3 linked regions of the Homo sapiens genome follow. The protein of the gene in region 1 interacts with the protein of each later gene in a biochemical or structural test. Each region holds a gene or a part of one and is shown on either strand. Other genes may lie near its edges.

Region 1 (5,464 bases):
CAGCTACAACTTATCGCATTGAAAGGATATAGAGCAAAATCAGCAAAGGGAAAAGGTGTGTCGGGTGAAGTCTGGAGGAAAGTAGGTACAAGCTTCCAAGAGGCCTCTCCCCATAGAGCTTGCACAGGATGTGCTTAATGTCTCCAGCGATGAACGTTTTCTGCCAGAGAAACTCATCTGAGCCTAGGAATGCAGGGTTTTTATGGGAGCCAGTTACATAGGCACATTGGCCTAGCCAAATTGCAGCCCTCCAGAAGAAAGGCAAGTTTTCAGCATAAACCACATTGTTTGTACAGACAGTTTAGGCATAGTACATGACCCTTATCAGATAGGGAATGGTGGGAACACACCGAAAATCCAAGGTTGCAAGCACAAGCCAGGGGCCAAACTTGTAACAGGCCTTTCTAAGGATAGCAGTCTCAGCCTGCTATGGTATCTCTTTTATGCACACTGCTAATAGAGACAAAACAAATCTTTTAAAAAGCTAAGAAATGGGCTGGGCGCGGTGGCTCACGCCTGTAATCCCAGCGCTTTGGGAGGCCGAGGCGGGCGGATCACGAGGTCAGGAGATTGAGACCATCCTGGCTAACACGGTGAAACCCCGTCTCTACTAAAAATACAAAAAATTAGCCGGGCGTGATGGCAGGTGCCTGTAGTCCCAGCTGCTCGGGAGGCTGAGGCAGGAGAACGGCATGAACCCGGGAGGCGGAGCTTGCAGTGAGCTGAGATTGCGCCACTGCACTCCAGCCTGGGCGACAGAGTGAGACTCCATCTCAAAAAAAAAAAAAAAAAAAAGCTAAGAAATGTGTGTACACATAAAATCTTGTGTATGACTGTTCATAGCAGCATTATTTATAATGGCCAAAGAGTGGGAACAACCTAGATAGCCATCGACTGATGAATAGATGAATAAAATGTGATATATTCATGCAATAGAATATTATTCAGCTATAAAAAGAAATGATACATACTACAACATGGGTGAACCTTGAAAATATTATGCTAAGTGTGAGGAGACAGTCACAAAAGACCACGAATTATATGATTTCATTTATATGAAATGTCCAGAATAGGCAAATCTATAGAGATAGAAGGTACATTAGTGGTTGACTAGGTCCCCAGAGGGTAGGGTACGAGGAGTGACTGCTAATGATATGGGATTTCTTTTCAGGGTGATGAAATATTTTAAAACTTAGATCGTGATGAAGGTTACAGAGTTCTGTGTATATACTAAAAACCACCTATTAAAAAAAAAAGAATGGCCAAGCGCGGTGGCTCTCGCCTGTAATCCCAGCACTTTGGGAGGCTGAGGCGGGTGGATCACTTGAGGTCAGGAGTTCGAGACCAGCCTGGTCAACATGGTGACAACCCCGTCACTACTAAAAATACAAAAATTAGCCAGGCATAATGGCGGATGCCTGTAATCCCAGCTACTTGGGAGGCCGAGGCAGGAGAATTGCTTGAACCTGGGAGGTGGAAGTTGCAGTGAGCCAAGATCATGCCCTTGCACTTCAGCCTAGGTGACATGGTGAGACTCTATCACACACAAAAAATACATAAATAAATAAATAATTAAAATTAAAAAATTTTTAAAAAGAAAAAGATATTTAAAAATAGCTACTTAAATGTCTGTGATGAGACAGGTTAAGTGCCAATTGAGTGGTACACACAGGCCAAGAAGGAGGCGTGCATGACCGTGTGGTAGTTCACAGGCCTTTGGAAGTGCCTGTGGGCTGAGCTCCTCAGGCATTTTGTTTCCAGAGATGCCTGCCATGAAAATGCATGCTTTATTTAACAAATTAGATTTAAAGCATCATCTAGATGTAATCTGTCTTAAAATTTTGTGAGGTTTAAGAAGTGAGTAATATAGTGGGTCTATGGTTTTCTGACCCACTGGAACTACCTATAAACCAAAAAAACGTTAGTGTCTGCTAGCATGCAACATGAATTCTGGACTAAATAGAGGATATTCTTTTATGATTGTACTAACGTATGACTTACCCTCTCTGAATCTGTTTTAATATCAATAAAGTGAGAGGACTGACTATGCAGCCATTCACTCATTTAGTGGATCTTTTAAATGAAAGACTACACATCAGGATTAAATGATCTCTTCCTTAATTTCCCAGACTCCTTGGAACCTAAAATTCTAGATAAGGATATTTTGAGTATTGAGATCTGCAAAAGCAGATTATCTCAAAACCACAAATTATTCTCTCTTAAACTTCACACAGGTGAGCTGGTCGCGATTAAATACTGAAAATGTGTTTTTTCTTAATAGGGAGAAGTAGAAGCCAAGGTTGAAGAATTAAAATTTGATCGTTACTCTGTATTTAGGCCTGGGTAAGTATAATATTTATACTGAATGAGAGTATGCCACTGATGGTTAATCCCTAGATACTAATTTTTCATTTGGAAAGGCTGACAGCTGAAATATCTAAGATATGAAAGACATTGGCTAGAGGTAGATTGCTTCTCTGAAGGACACACCTTTTTGCTTAGAAAGAAAGGGTAGATGGTGGGGCCTGCTTCAGAATAGTCTGGAACTTCCTGGACAGCATTTGCTGCCTTCTTAAATCCTCTTCATGTGCCAAATAAAACCTTACGTCTACTGTATTAGTCTGCTTGGGTTGCCATAACAGAATACCACACAGATTGGGTGTCTTAAACAACAGAAATTTTTTTTCACGCAGTCTGGAGATTGGAAGTCCAAGATCAAGGTGCCCTCAGGGTTGGTGTCCGGTGAGGCCTCTTTTCCTGGCTGGCAGACAGACCACCTTCTGGCAGTGTCCTCACATGGCCTTTCTTCTTAGTGTATGCAGACAGAGAGAGACCTCTGATGTCTCTTCCTCTTATGAGGACCCCAGTCCCATCACACTAGTCCTATTCCATCCTTAAGACCTCATTAAACTTAATTACTTCCCTTAATGCCTTATCTTCAAATATAGACACCTTGGGGATTAGGGCTTCAACATTAGAATATTGAGGGGATACAGTTTTGTCCGTAATGCCCACTGTGGTCTCAGTGCAATTTACCACCTCTTCCTCTGCTTTTCTTTCTTTTTTTTTTTTTTTTATTTTAGAGTTCTGTTATGTGATAGGCAAGAATCTCGCCCAGGTGAATGGCTGGTTAGAAAGTTCTTTGGCTCCTTACCAGACTCTTGGGCCAGTGGGCATTCTGTGCCTGTGGTGACCGTGGTTAGAGCAATGCTGAACAATGTGGTGAGACCAAGAGACAAGCAGATGGAACTGCTGGAGAACAAGGCCATCCATGACCTGGGGAAAGCGCATGGCTCTCTCAAGCCATGACCACATTGGAGAAATGGTTTTTATTGTCAACCTTAACACCCATCACCAAATCGGTAATTTCAGGGTCTAAAAAAAGTCAGCATGTTTTAACTTTGTTGTTTTACTATCCTCAGGCATCCATTCCAATCAAGAAATGATGGTGCTCTGCATCAGTGGTTCAGAGCCTGGTTATACATATAGATCACTCAGGGAGCTTTGGAAAAATAAAGATTTGTCAGCCCTATCTCAAACTTGAATCAAAATTTCTGGGGTGTGGGCACAATAATCTGTAATTTTCTTTGTTTATACTTCCCCTGATGCCACTGGTTCCGATGCCACTGGCTGGGGGGCCTGCTTTGAAATGCTTGTCTGCAGAGTCACAGCAGCCATGAAAACCTTATGACCGTGCAAATGAGCTCTGCTCTAAAATTGTTGACATTCATGTCTCTGAGTTACAAAAGTGCTAATTCACTACATGTAATTGTGTAAGTAAACATTGTGCCTTTACTACTTCTTTATGTAATAGAAGTTATATACCTAAGCTTATATAATACATGGGGAGGATTAAATAAAGGAATAAAGATGAATGGACAACTCCTGGGTGCCTCTTAGATTGCTTGAAAATGCCCATGTAGTGTGATATGCAGCATTTCAGCCTATGGGGTGATATAATAGCAGCTAATATTTACCAAATGCTTGCTAAGTACCAGTCTTTACATGTGTTATCTGTGCTTTAACCCTCTTATAAACAATCCTTATAAAGTGATACTATCATGATCTTCATGTCTTAGATGGGGAAATGAGGCTCACTGTGGTTAAGTGCCTTGCTCAAGAGTCCAAATCTGAAGAACTGAAGCAAAGAAATGGCAGAGTCAGGATTCTAACCCAGGTCTGCCTGATCCCATAGATCCCATATATCGTGTTTTTAAGCACCCTGCAAAAGCATTCTGTTCCCGTATATTTCCAGGTAGTTCCAGTTGATTGTTACTACATGTTGTGGATGAACAAAATCGAAATATTTGGGTTTCTCCTTTGTTCTAGTGATTAATTACTAAATGTTCACATAGCCAGTAAAATTCTATGCCACCAAACTTTAAAGTGCTCATGCTGCTGCACTTTAAAAATTAAGGCAAAGGAAGATGCAGAAGGAAGGGTCAAAGCCAAGAGGAACATACATTGCTAATTTCCATCATAGAACAAAAGATGTTAATGTAACTTGTCTTAACGTCTGCACCAGGGAAGCAAAGTGATTCGAGGGACTCAGTCAATTCTTCCAAGGCCTACTGTATGCCAAGTACATTTCAAGCTTCAGTATACACTGGAGGATAAAGGCCATTCTCCTTAATTTGGAGTGTATATCCTTAGAAGGGAGAAGACATTCCCAGTGTCAGTCACCCAAAAAAGAGGCATATTTTAGGGCAGGGTGGGATATTGAAATGTGAGCTTTAAAAGGAAATGAAATATCTTCCTTCTGCCAGGTGGGGTTCCCTGGGAGTTGGACTTTGAAGAGCCTAAGTGTGTTGTTTTGATGGTGAAAAAGCATGGGCCGAGGATATGTTGAGGCCTCTGGGCTCTGAAAGCAGCTAAACCCAGTGGCCTGTTTTAAGTTATTCTCCTTATATTATTTCCTTACTCACAAACCTTCGAGCAGGTTTCATTCAACATGTTATTCTGGTCTCAGTAGTGATGTGGGATAATGAGGAAGGGTCTGTGTTCACCTTTGGAGTAGAGAGAAAAGCAGCCCTCTCTTGAGCTCTGCATTGTGGTGAGATATGAACTTACTAAGGAACAAGACTCTGGCCCAATCACTCCTCCACAATGGGTGTTAACTTGTTTTATTGTCAACACTGAATGGACTGGGTGTTCCATTTAGTACTAAGGGATTCAGGAAGTTTTCCACCAAATGTTACACAGACAGAAAAAGTTTATGTTGGAAGGATGAAGGGAAAAGTTGGATGGGCCCAGGTAATCAAGTGTTCATTAATTCATTCAGCAAATGCTTATTCAGTGCCTTTCATGTGCCACTGAGCACACAGGCACTGGGGATGCATCCATGAACGATGACTCCAACTCAAGAGAGCCAGCAGCTATTCTGGCAATGTCCTAGGATGTAAGAAAGCTTCAAAATTAATATTTGGGCCGGGTGCGGTCAATCACGCCTGTAATCTCAGGACTT
Region 2 (4,448 bases), on another chromosome or scaffold:
ATATTTACCTTAAGTTTACTTTCCAGAAGTTCAACACTGGTAATCAGATAGGAAGCCTCAGATTCATTTAGCCCATGAACTACTGCTTCTTTGCCAAGTGTGGCATATAAAGTCACAACTACATAATAAAAATAAACACAAATATTAAGTAATAAACATCTATTAGAAATGGATATTATTGAAGTCAGTCTTTAATAATAGTTACACTTAGAGACACAAAGACATTGTATATTTTAATTTGATTTCATAGTCTCTGTTACCATCCTTCAACCTTGCTTCAAACTCCCTGGGAGCCCAAAGTTTTCCTTACAAATTCCCAGAACTCTCACTTCCTAAACCTGAAGAAACCCAGAAACACTCGCACTGCCACAGCTGATCAAAAATCTGTCAATTTAGATGCTCAAGGCCAATAGGTACTGGCTGAACTCTTAATTCAGGTCAGACTGGCCCAGCTAGGGCTTCTTCTTGATACACACTTTCATTGGCCATAGCCTCCAAAGAATGGATAAGTCCTTGAAAATCTTGAGGATCTTAAGTCATAAGATCAGCCACAGATAATGTTCTTACTCCTTCTAAGAAGCTGTTTTAGTGAGTCCAATGTCCAATGTGATTGGTGACCTCCACACCTTAATTAGAGAGATCAAGGAGATCTACTCCTTAGGAGCCACCAGAGATAACATAAACCAAGATCAGTTAGAATCAAAGGACATCTGCTAAACTTAGAAAGAACTGAAAATTCAGCTCTAGATTGGTAACCAGAAACAATGTGGTTAAAAATAGCCACTTTCACAAGCTGTTCATCGTTGAAAGTGGGTAATGGGTACATAGGGGATCATTTTCATATTATCTATTTTTTGTTTGAAATTTAAGCTCTATAATCCTAACTTACAGTGTTATATTTCATTCAACAAACAACAGAGTACTTAGTATGTGACAATACATTGTTTATTTCTTAAACAATGGCAACAACAAATGCTTGAGTATTAGAAATATACTCAATTTTACTTTCTAACATATCTAATGCCAATTCCAGCTGTCACATGCATATTTCACACGTAAAATAGAATAAGTCAAATAAGAGGTCTCAAAGTGAAGCAATGAATTTGAATTATCCTGAGAAATGGTTTTTTGTTCTTTTAATCATTACTCTTTGTATATCACCCCCCCAAAATACCCCCAAACTCCAACTCTTTCAGTTACAATTCATTTCCAATTGGAAAATAAAAGTGTAAATCACATCCCTTAAAGCTGCCAATTCCCATATTAGTTCTTACAAGTTACCATACTTAACAGGAGTCATCGGATATCTTTTAGCCACAATATTACATGCCGTATTATGGACATAATTAATGTGTAAAATGGCTAAACAACACCTACTGTGAAAACAAGAGCATCTCAAAACAATTCTCACATGCAAGCAAAGACCCTCCTCTCCCCCCTCCAAAAACACAAGGCACTTACGAGGAAAGTTGTACTTAAAGCAGGTCTGTGCTGCAATCATCCATTCGGCCCTGGTCTCACAGAAGATGGCAATGGTGTTCTTTGGTTTTAGTCCCAGTGCAGTGAGTCCACTACCAAAGTTATTCACTCTGCGATTCACTTCAAGATAGTTCATCCATTTATAATTCCCAAGAATTAACTGTTAAAGTGATACATTCTCTAATATTAGTATATTCAAACAAGCAATTAAAATACTATCCAAAGCATAAAACTCTAAAAATGCTCTTAAATGAACATACAGAAGCTATGAGCGGCTTCTGAGTAGTTTTACACAGCACTATAATAGAATGCCAGCATACTTAAAACGCACTCGATTTATGATAAAACAAATGTGTCTTCCTCTTTAAAACATAAATGAAAAGCACCAAAATACTTTACCTTCTTAAAAACTTTTCCATTTGGCTGCATTTCATTTTCTTCACTTAGGATTTCCCTGGTCCCAAGGCTGTCCTTCTTCCCAAACTTGGATACAGCATGGTCAAATAATTTATCCAGAGTATCTGCTCCAGGGATGTCTATTACAGCTAGTGAGTCGAAGTGTGTGACAGAGCGATATGGACTTCCAGGTTTGTCTGAAGTGGGCTTAGCTTTTATTCTCTTTGCCATAGCGTTTTTCTTCTTGGCATTGGTAAGAAAATACCATGGAATAAATATAAGGGCACTGTATATTGTTATTAACAAGTGGACAGGCAGCAAAATAATGGTGAGCACATTTAGCTTAAGTTTCATAGTGGAAAGGCTTCTAAAATGGTGCTTATTTCTTGTTATTCTTTGGCTTTTGAAAGCCTTATTGTGCTGAAGAAGGCAATAATAGAAGCAGCAGTAAGAATAGCAGTACAGCCAAGGCAGTTCAATCTTAGTGATACAGATAAAAGTTAGTAATCTTTGGAAGCCGACAATAAAGTACGCCTGTAGGTGATGACAATGAACCAAGCAGAGAGCAGGAAAAATAAAAACAAAAAACAAAAAACAAAAACAAAAGAATATTAACAAGTTGATAGCACAATTGATTTAAATACTCAGGTCTTTATTAGTTTACACAATTAATTACAGAAAGCTGAAATAACTGGTCTGAAAGGCTGGCATTTTCCATTTGTAATCATTATTGACGTAAATGTCTTTGAGCACATCAACTTCTGAATTTATTTTTTTCTAGGTTTCTAGGTGTACTGGTACTCTGCATATCATTCTGTGAGTTGAATAACAACCTTAATGCTTACACAAATGCATGAATATGATATTTAAGTTTGTCAAAACTTTGGTAGAATAGGGTATGCCAATAATAAGATTTCTCTTAAACATGTGCATGTAAACTAGACATCTTTAAATAGTGTTAGGTTTATATCCAAAGGGGGGGGTGGGGCAGAAACTATCAACTTAGATTTATTTCTCAAAGGTCAACCCAGAAACCTTATTCTGAGTTCTTCATTAAGGTAAATTTCTCAGGTAATGCTATTTACTATCTACTATTTCCCACATGGGAGCAATACAATTGTAAAATCATTTCCTACATGTCCACTTTGTGCTCAAAACTGCACCAGTTGCCTAGGAGTGGTAATACAAGTCTGAAGTAGTATTAATTCCTGGCCCTTGGCCATTATAAGTTAACACTTATGAGTCAACTATCACACAAGATAGATCCAGTATTTTTGCAACTGTTTGGGGGAACGGGGACAGGGGGTGCAATTAAACCATCTCTTCTAATAAACACTACTGGAAACTGCCCATATATAACACTAAAGTGGAGTTGCTCTGGCCAAAACAGGGTTTGGGGATGTCCAGAGTCCTGCCCCAGAATTCCCGGAATCCCAACTCCCAAGGTGACCACTAAAGCATTTCCACTGAAAAGCCTTGTGGTAATACATAACTAATACATAACTACCATGTGCAGTGTAGGCAGTAGTATAAGCAATAAATGCAAAAGGAGTTCAGAGGAAGTGCAAAATGGCCAAGAGTAACTAGGAGAGGCTTTGTGGAGATTAGATTTAAGCTGGACCTTATGTTGGGCATCTAGAAATGAAAGAGGAATGGAAGGTATTCCAGGCTCAGGGACCATATGAAAAAAGATACGAAGGTGGGAATGAAAGGACTTTGGGAGAATAGGAAGTACCAATAGCAAGGACACTAGTCTGACTGGGGCACAGCATACACTAAATACGCTAAATACGCTTGACTAAATACGCTACGGTAGTTACAAAATCTAACAAATCAGGCAAAGTAATTTTGATTGGATTATGTGGAAAGCTGGGGGCTGCTGCAGGTTAGAAAAACAGTGCCATTGGAAAGAAACCGCAGAAACAGGCTCAAGAATAGTAATATTTCTTTTCTTTCTTTTTTTTTTTTTTTTTTTTTTGAGACAAGGTCTCACTTTGTCACACGGGCCAGAGTGCAGTGGCATGATCTCAGCTCACTGCAACCTCTGCCTCCCGGACTCAAAAGATCCTCCCACCTCAGCCTCCCGAGTAGCTGGGAACACAGATGTGCATCACCATGCCTGGCTAGTTTTTTTCCATTTTTTGTAGAGACGGGGTTTTGCCATTGTTGCTCAGGCTGTTCTCAAAATCCTGGACTCAAGCTATCTGCCCTCAATGGCCTCCCAAAGTGCTGGGATTACAGGCGGGGGCCACCACACCCGGCCCAAGAATAGGAACATTTTTTAAGGAGCTTACCTTCAACTGAGAAAGCTACTTCGGTGAGTTGTAGCATATTTCAACCAGAAAAATCAAAATATTAGTTCACTTTGAAGAGACAAACTGAAGCCCATCCTTCTGCAACTTTTGTAGAAACAGACTGACAGACTTAATTCAATTGACCCCAGGCTAGTTGATTGTTTTTATACCATCTAATATAAAATGGTAGCTTAATCCTGCCTGTGCCTTTGTTCATGTAATTTAGTTGAGTACAGTGAAATGAGAAAGAAACTGGAAGTCACTGGGTGTCAATCCTCA
Region 3 (4,448 bases), on another chromosome or scaffold:
GACTGGACCTTTTCCAGGTTCCATCAGTATTTGATCAGGGAGTCCTAGCAAGAATATTCTAAATGGAAAGCATGTCTTTCCACTCCGTTGGAGGCAGCATAGCATAATGTTTAAGTACTTTGGTGTAAGAAAGACCTGGGTCTGAGTCTCAGCTCTGCCTCCTGATAATTGTGTGGCCTGTCACTTAATTTCTCTAAACTTCAAATTTTCTCATTTGCAAAGTAGAAATTATAGCAGTATTTAATTCCAAGAGTTGTAAAAGGATTGAATGAAATAATACACATAATGTTCTTAGTACACAGGCTCAGGAACAAAATAAGCATTCTGTAAGTATAAACTATTGTTTCCCCCATTTCTGTTCCCAGGAATAATATTCTAATACAGTTAAAGATGTAATAATTATTTTAGTTGGAGAATAAAGGAGATAATCAAATATATAGGGAAAGTATAGTATTCAAAGTGAACTTAAAGGGTTGATTTAGAAAGAGCAAGCATAACATTCTCTTATCCCTGACTTGTTACAATATAACTCATTACAATATCCCTGATGTTGCAATATATCATCAAAGTTGTCTTCATAAATATAGTTTAGCGAGAAGTCCTGTCATTTCCCCTCCCAATTTGGGGGATTTAATGTGTGATATTCTCTGTCTTGTCAGTATGGTTTTCCAACTGGCATTATCTTTATCAGCATGTAATGCCACTTTAGTAATTCTTGATTGTTAGTTGGTTTTCAACTAAGCCTTTTAGAGAGTTTTATGTCATTTGTAGTCAGTTATTAAAACAGTATAGGCTTCTGGGTTCTTTGAACAGCTAGTGGTGGTACTGTCACTAAGTGTTGTAGTTCATGTGGCTGTCAAAAGACAAAATTACAGCACACTTAGTTTAGAGATCTTAATTGTCTTTTATTTGCAACTCTAGAATAGGGCAACACCTCATTCTATAAAATAGAACAAGTGTTCCAATGAGCTGAGCAGAGGCGTTTGGCTTTATAAACAGAGAAGGGAGCTGAGGAAAGCAGAGACAAGGAGCAAAAAGCGGATTGGTCATTTCAGAGTTACTTTTCTTGTGAAGGGTAAAGCAGTGCAGACTTCCTTTTCATGCTGGCTAAAACTGGCCTATTTGTGGTTTTGGCCATTATTTATCTCCTGATTTCGCAGAACGTCAGGAAAAGATCTTTGTCTTGGCTTGATAGCGTGGAACTTCATCATGAATTTGGTTTGGTCTTTGGGCCTAGTTCAGGAGCTCAGTCCAAAGCAATGGCCTCCTGGAAATTTTCTTTGACACCGCTCTTGTTATTCCTAGTCCTCATTGTTTTCTGTGGCTGTAGCTTATGAACTATAAAATCTGGTTTTAAGGTGAAAAGAGTTGTTTTATGATTGTACAATTAAAAAATAAGTAGAACAAAGTAGTTTTTGGTACTGTGAGTGAAAGAAACATGCATTTTTATTTATAGCATTATCCAAGGACCATTTTGTGACCCCTGTCTGGCATATTAGTCTAAAATAAAATTGTGGATTAGATATTGTATATTTTGGGAGTTCTTCACCCCATCCTTTTGTAGTTTATAATGGTTCTGCCATTTCCAGCATGTTTTCTAGATTATTTTCCAGTTCTTTTCCTTGTATGTAAAGCTCTTTTTCTTGTCTAAAAATTCTTAACTGAGAAGTGCTTTTAACTGTTTTCAGACCACCACTTGGACACTATAGATATTCAGGCCAAGATAAAGCACTTCATGGTGATTATGATGATTTTGAATGGCATTCACATTGCTAGTATAATTAACAAAGTATAGAAGTATCACCCAAACTGAAGTGGAGAAGACACTGAGAGATGACTTTTGGTCTTAAGGGCAGTTGGCCAGAATAAAGTATAGCAGAAGGGGAAAGAAGTACCGTTTCTTCCCTTTTCTATTCAGAGGAGACATTAGACCTCTCCTTGGAAGAGATTCCCAAGTTGCCACTTCCCTCTTGTTGATTAATTTTTCTCCAACCAGAGTTCCCCATCTGATGTCCAGAAAGATCTCCAAATTGTCTTTCTACCTTTTTTTCCCTTCTTTACATTAACACCATTTCTATTTGCTTGGTGTTGATTATATCTCTCTATAAGGATTTAGGAGAAAATAATCTGATTATTTAATACAAAATAAAACTATAGATTAGATACTGTGTCTTTCTTTGGGAATTCTTCACCCCATTCTTTTGTGGTTTAAAACAGTTCTGTCATTTCCTACATGTTTTCTGGATTATTTTCTGGTTTCTTCCTTTTATGTAAAGCCGTGAGTTGGTGCTTTAGCATTCTCAATATTTGCATTTTCAAAGAAAATCTTTTTTAAATGAACCCTCTGCTTCCAACTGACAGGTTTTCAAATTCTGTGACAAAAAAAATAGGATGAGGGAAGTTTTTTCTTGACTTCTTGAATCTTTGCTCTCCGTGATTAGTTCCTTAAAGTTATTTATTCTTCTGTATTTCTGAACTCATGGATTTCCCAAAAGTTCTATGTGCACATGTGTTAGGATTTTTTGGGTGTATGGGGATTGGCAGTAATGTTGGTGGTTGTGTTTTTACAACTCTCACTGAAAACTCCCCAGCCCTACCCTAATCTGAGCAATTCTATTAGATAGGAAAAAAAAAAAAATCCAGGTCTCATTTTCTCCATACGTCAGCCCAGATGGAAATTTAAGGAACTCTTAAATAGAGATGAATAAACAGATACTTGACATACTACACTAAAAGTTTACTAAACCCTAAAATGAGACAATTATCTGAGAATTCTTGTTTTTGCAGAAGAAACATCCCATGCTGTCAAATATAAATACTTTGGACTACCCAATGAAAATAGATACTACGAGGCAAATTACAATCAAAATGGTTTAAAGATATAATCTTGAATATTCTTTAATCTTTTAAGTAATTACAAAACGATTCCACCAGCTTCAAAGTAAAATATTTATGTCCTTCATTCTAACTAGAACTGGTTTTGTTCCAAAGATATAGTATACATGACCATGTGATTTCTCCAGTTCTGTATGTAGATGCTCACGAAACTGGCTATAATTATACAGTGTAATATTCCTTTTCATATGTAGAGAGCAAATTATTGGTAATAGAAACCTACCAATTAAAGTAATACTATATGTGTTGTACTCTTAACCTGAATGTTTGCCAGGTCTAGTCAGTGTTTAGATGTGAGTTTCCTTTATTCACAAGACCATTTAATAATATATGAACTCCTGCTGAAGTTATGTTATGTATATTTTTTATCTTAATACACACCCAGTGTATTCCAGAGACACCTTGAAAACTACTTAAAATACTCAAAGATATTATATTTCTCTCTGAATCATAGCCAACCTATATAATTAGAAAGTGGTACACAGTAAGTGAACAGACTCAGTAAGTCATAAACCTGAACTAGTATTCTTCACAATTACGTATAATAGAACTAGATATTCCCTATAAGGCCTGTCATTATATAATTTGTAATTTAGACCATTATAAACTTTAAGAGTTGTAAATTGTGAAAGTACTGCATGCAGTAGCAAAGCTATGGTCAGATATTACTGGCCAAGTCTTACATAGAAAATATTTTCAGGTTTTTTTTAAAATAGAAGGATTATATCTTGTGTCTGCTTAATTGAAAAGGTAAGAATCAATTTAAGATATACTTCACTATTTAGCTTTATATTATTTTCAGTTTTGTCAGAAGCCATTTTTCTAGACAAATTAGAGACTTCTGATTTAAAATGGAATTGAAGATTACCTTCATTTGATCAGGAACTCAAAAGTTGGCAAAATAGCAGCATAAAATCTCTACCAGACCTCTAAGTTTCTTGTTATTGCTGTGGTCTTTCATGTGATAGGAATCTGGTTGGGATTTTTAAAATACATAATTATTATTTTAAAGCACTCGAATTATGTGAGTACTTAATACCATTTGATGTCATTAGATACACTATTAATTGTTTAATACGGAAAAAGGGGAACAAACTCTACTGCAGCAGAAAGCACTTTTATTTCTTCATTCATCTGAAGTATGAAATTTGTAATGTATTTATTTAGCTTTAAGTCATATGAAAACTGTCAGGTATTATTTTGGGGCATAGATTTCTTAGTACATGGTATTTATTATTCACTTCAATTTTTGTAAAGCAGGTATTCTTGGTTTTTAGCAAAGCAGGCTTTAGCTATACAAATTTGCTTTTCTTTAAGCTTATGTGATTCTACTTTTCTCCCATATCTAGTTCTATACGCCAGCCTTCTCTAATGAAAACAACTTAGGAGGAGTGTTTTATTACCTAACCCTACTATACCAAACGCCAGTCCTTATTCTTGGTTATCTGTAGATGTTAACAGGTCATATTCTTTGTTTATTAAAAATAATAATAATAATTTTCTTTCCTGCATGTTATTCTGGAAGATTCTATCCAGTGGAATTCAACACAAGA

What was found.
Region 2: the proteins of HTATIP2 (region 1) and ACSL4 form a complex in vitro, tested with the Homo sapiens proteins (one study listed by BioGRID).
Region 3: the proteins of HTATIP2 (region 1) and NCOA5 form a complex in vitro, tested with the Homo sapiens proteins (one study listed by BioGRID).

Annotation. Positions count from the first base shown.
Region 1 is NC_000011.10:20,379,897-20,385,360, forward strand, and holds the end of HTATIP2 (protein HTATIP2), read left to right. Parts: intron 1-2,281; coding exon 2,282-2,343; intron 2,344-3,083; coding exon 3,084-3,309; 3' UTR 3,310-3,886; downstream 3,887-5,464. UniProt on the Homo sapiens protein: Represses translation by preventing reactivation of elongation factor eEF1A. May also inhibit nuclear import by competing with nuclear import substrates for binding to a subset of nuclear transport receptors.
Region 2 is NC_000023.11:109,681,258-109,685,705, forward strand, and holds part of ACSL4 (long-chain-fatty-acid--CoA ligase 4), read right to left. Parts: intron 4,188-4,448; exon of another isoform or gene 4,170-4,187; intron 2,410-4,169; exon of another isoform or gene 2,230-2,409; coding exon of another isoform or gene 2,107-2,229; coding exon 1,879-2,106; intron 1,640-1,878; coding exon 1,462-1,639; intron 119-1,461; coding exon 9-118; intron 1-8. UniProt on the Homo sapiens protein: Catalyzes the conversion of long-chain fatty acids to their active form acyl-CoA for both synthesis of cellular lipids, and degradation via beta-oxidation. Preferentially activates arachidonate and eicosapentaenoate as substrates.
Region 3 is NC_000020.11:46,079,963-46,084,410, reverse strand, and holds part of NCOA5 (nuclear receptor coactivator 5), read left to right. Parts: intron 1-4,448. UniProt on the Homo sapiens protein: Nuclear receptor coregulator that can have both coactivator and corepressor functions.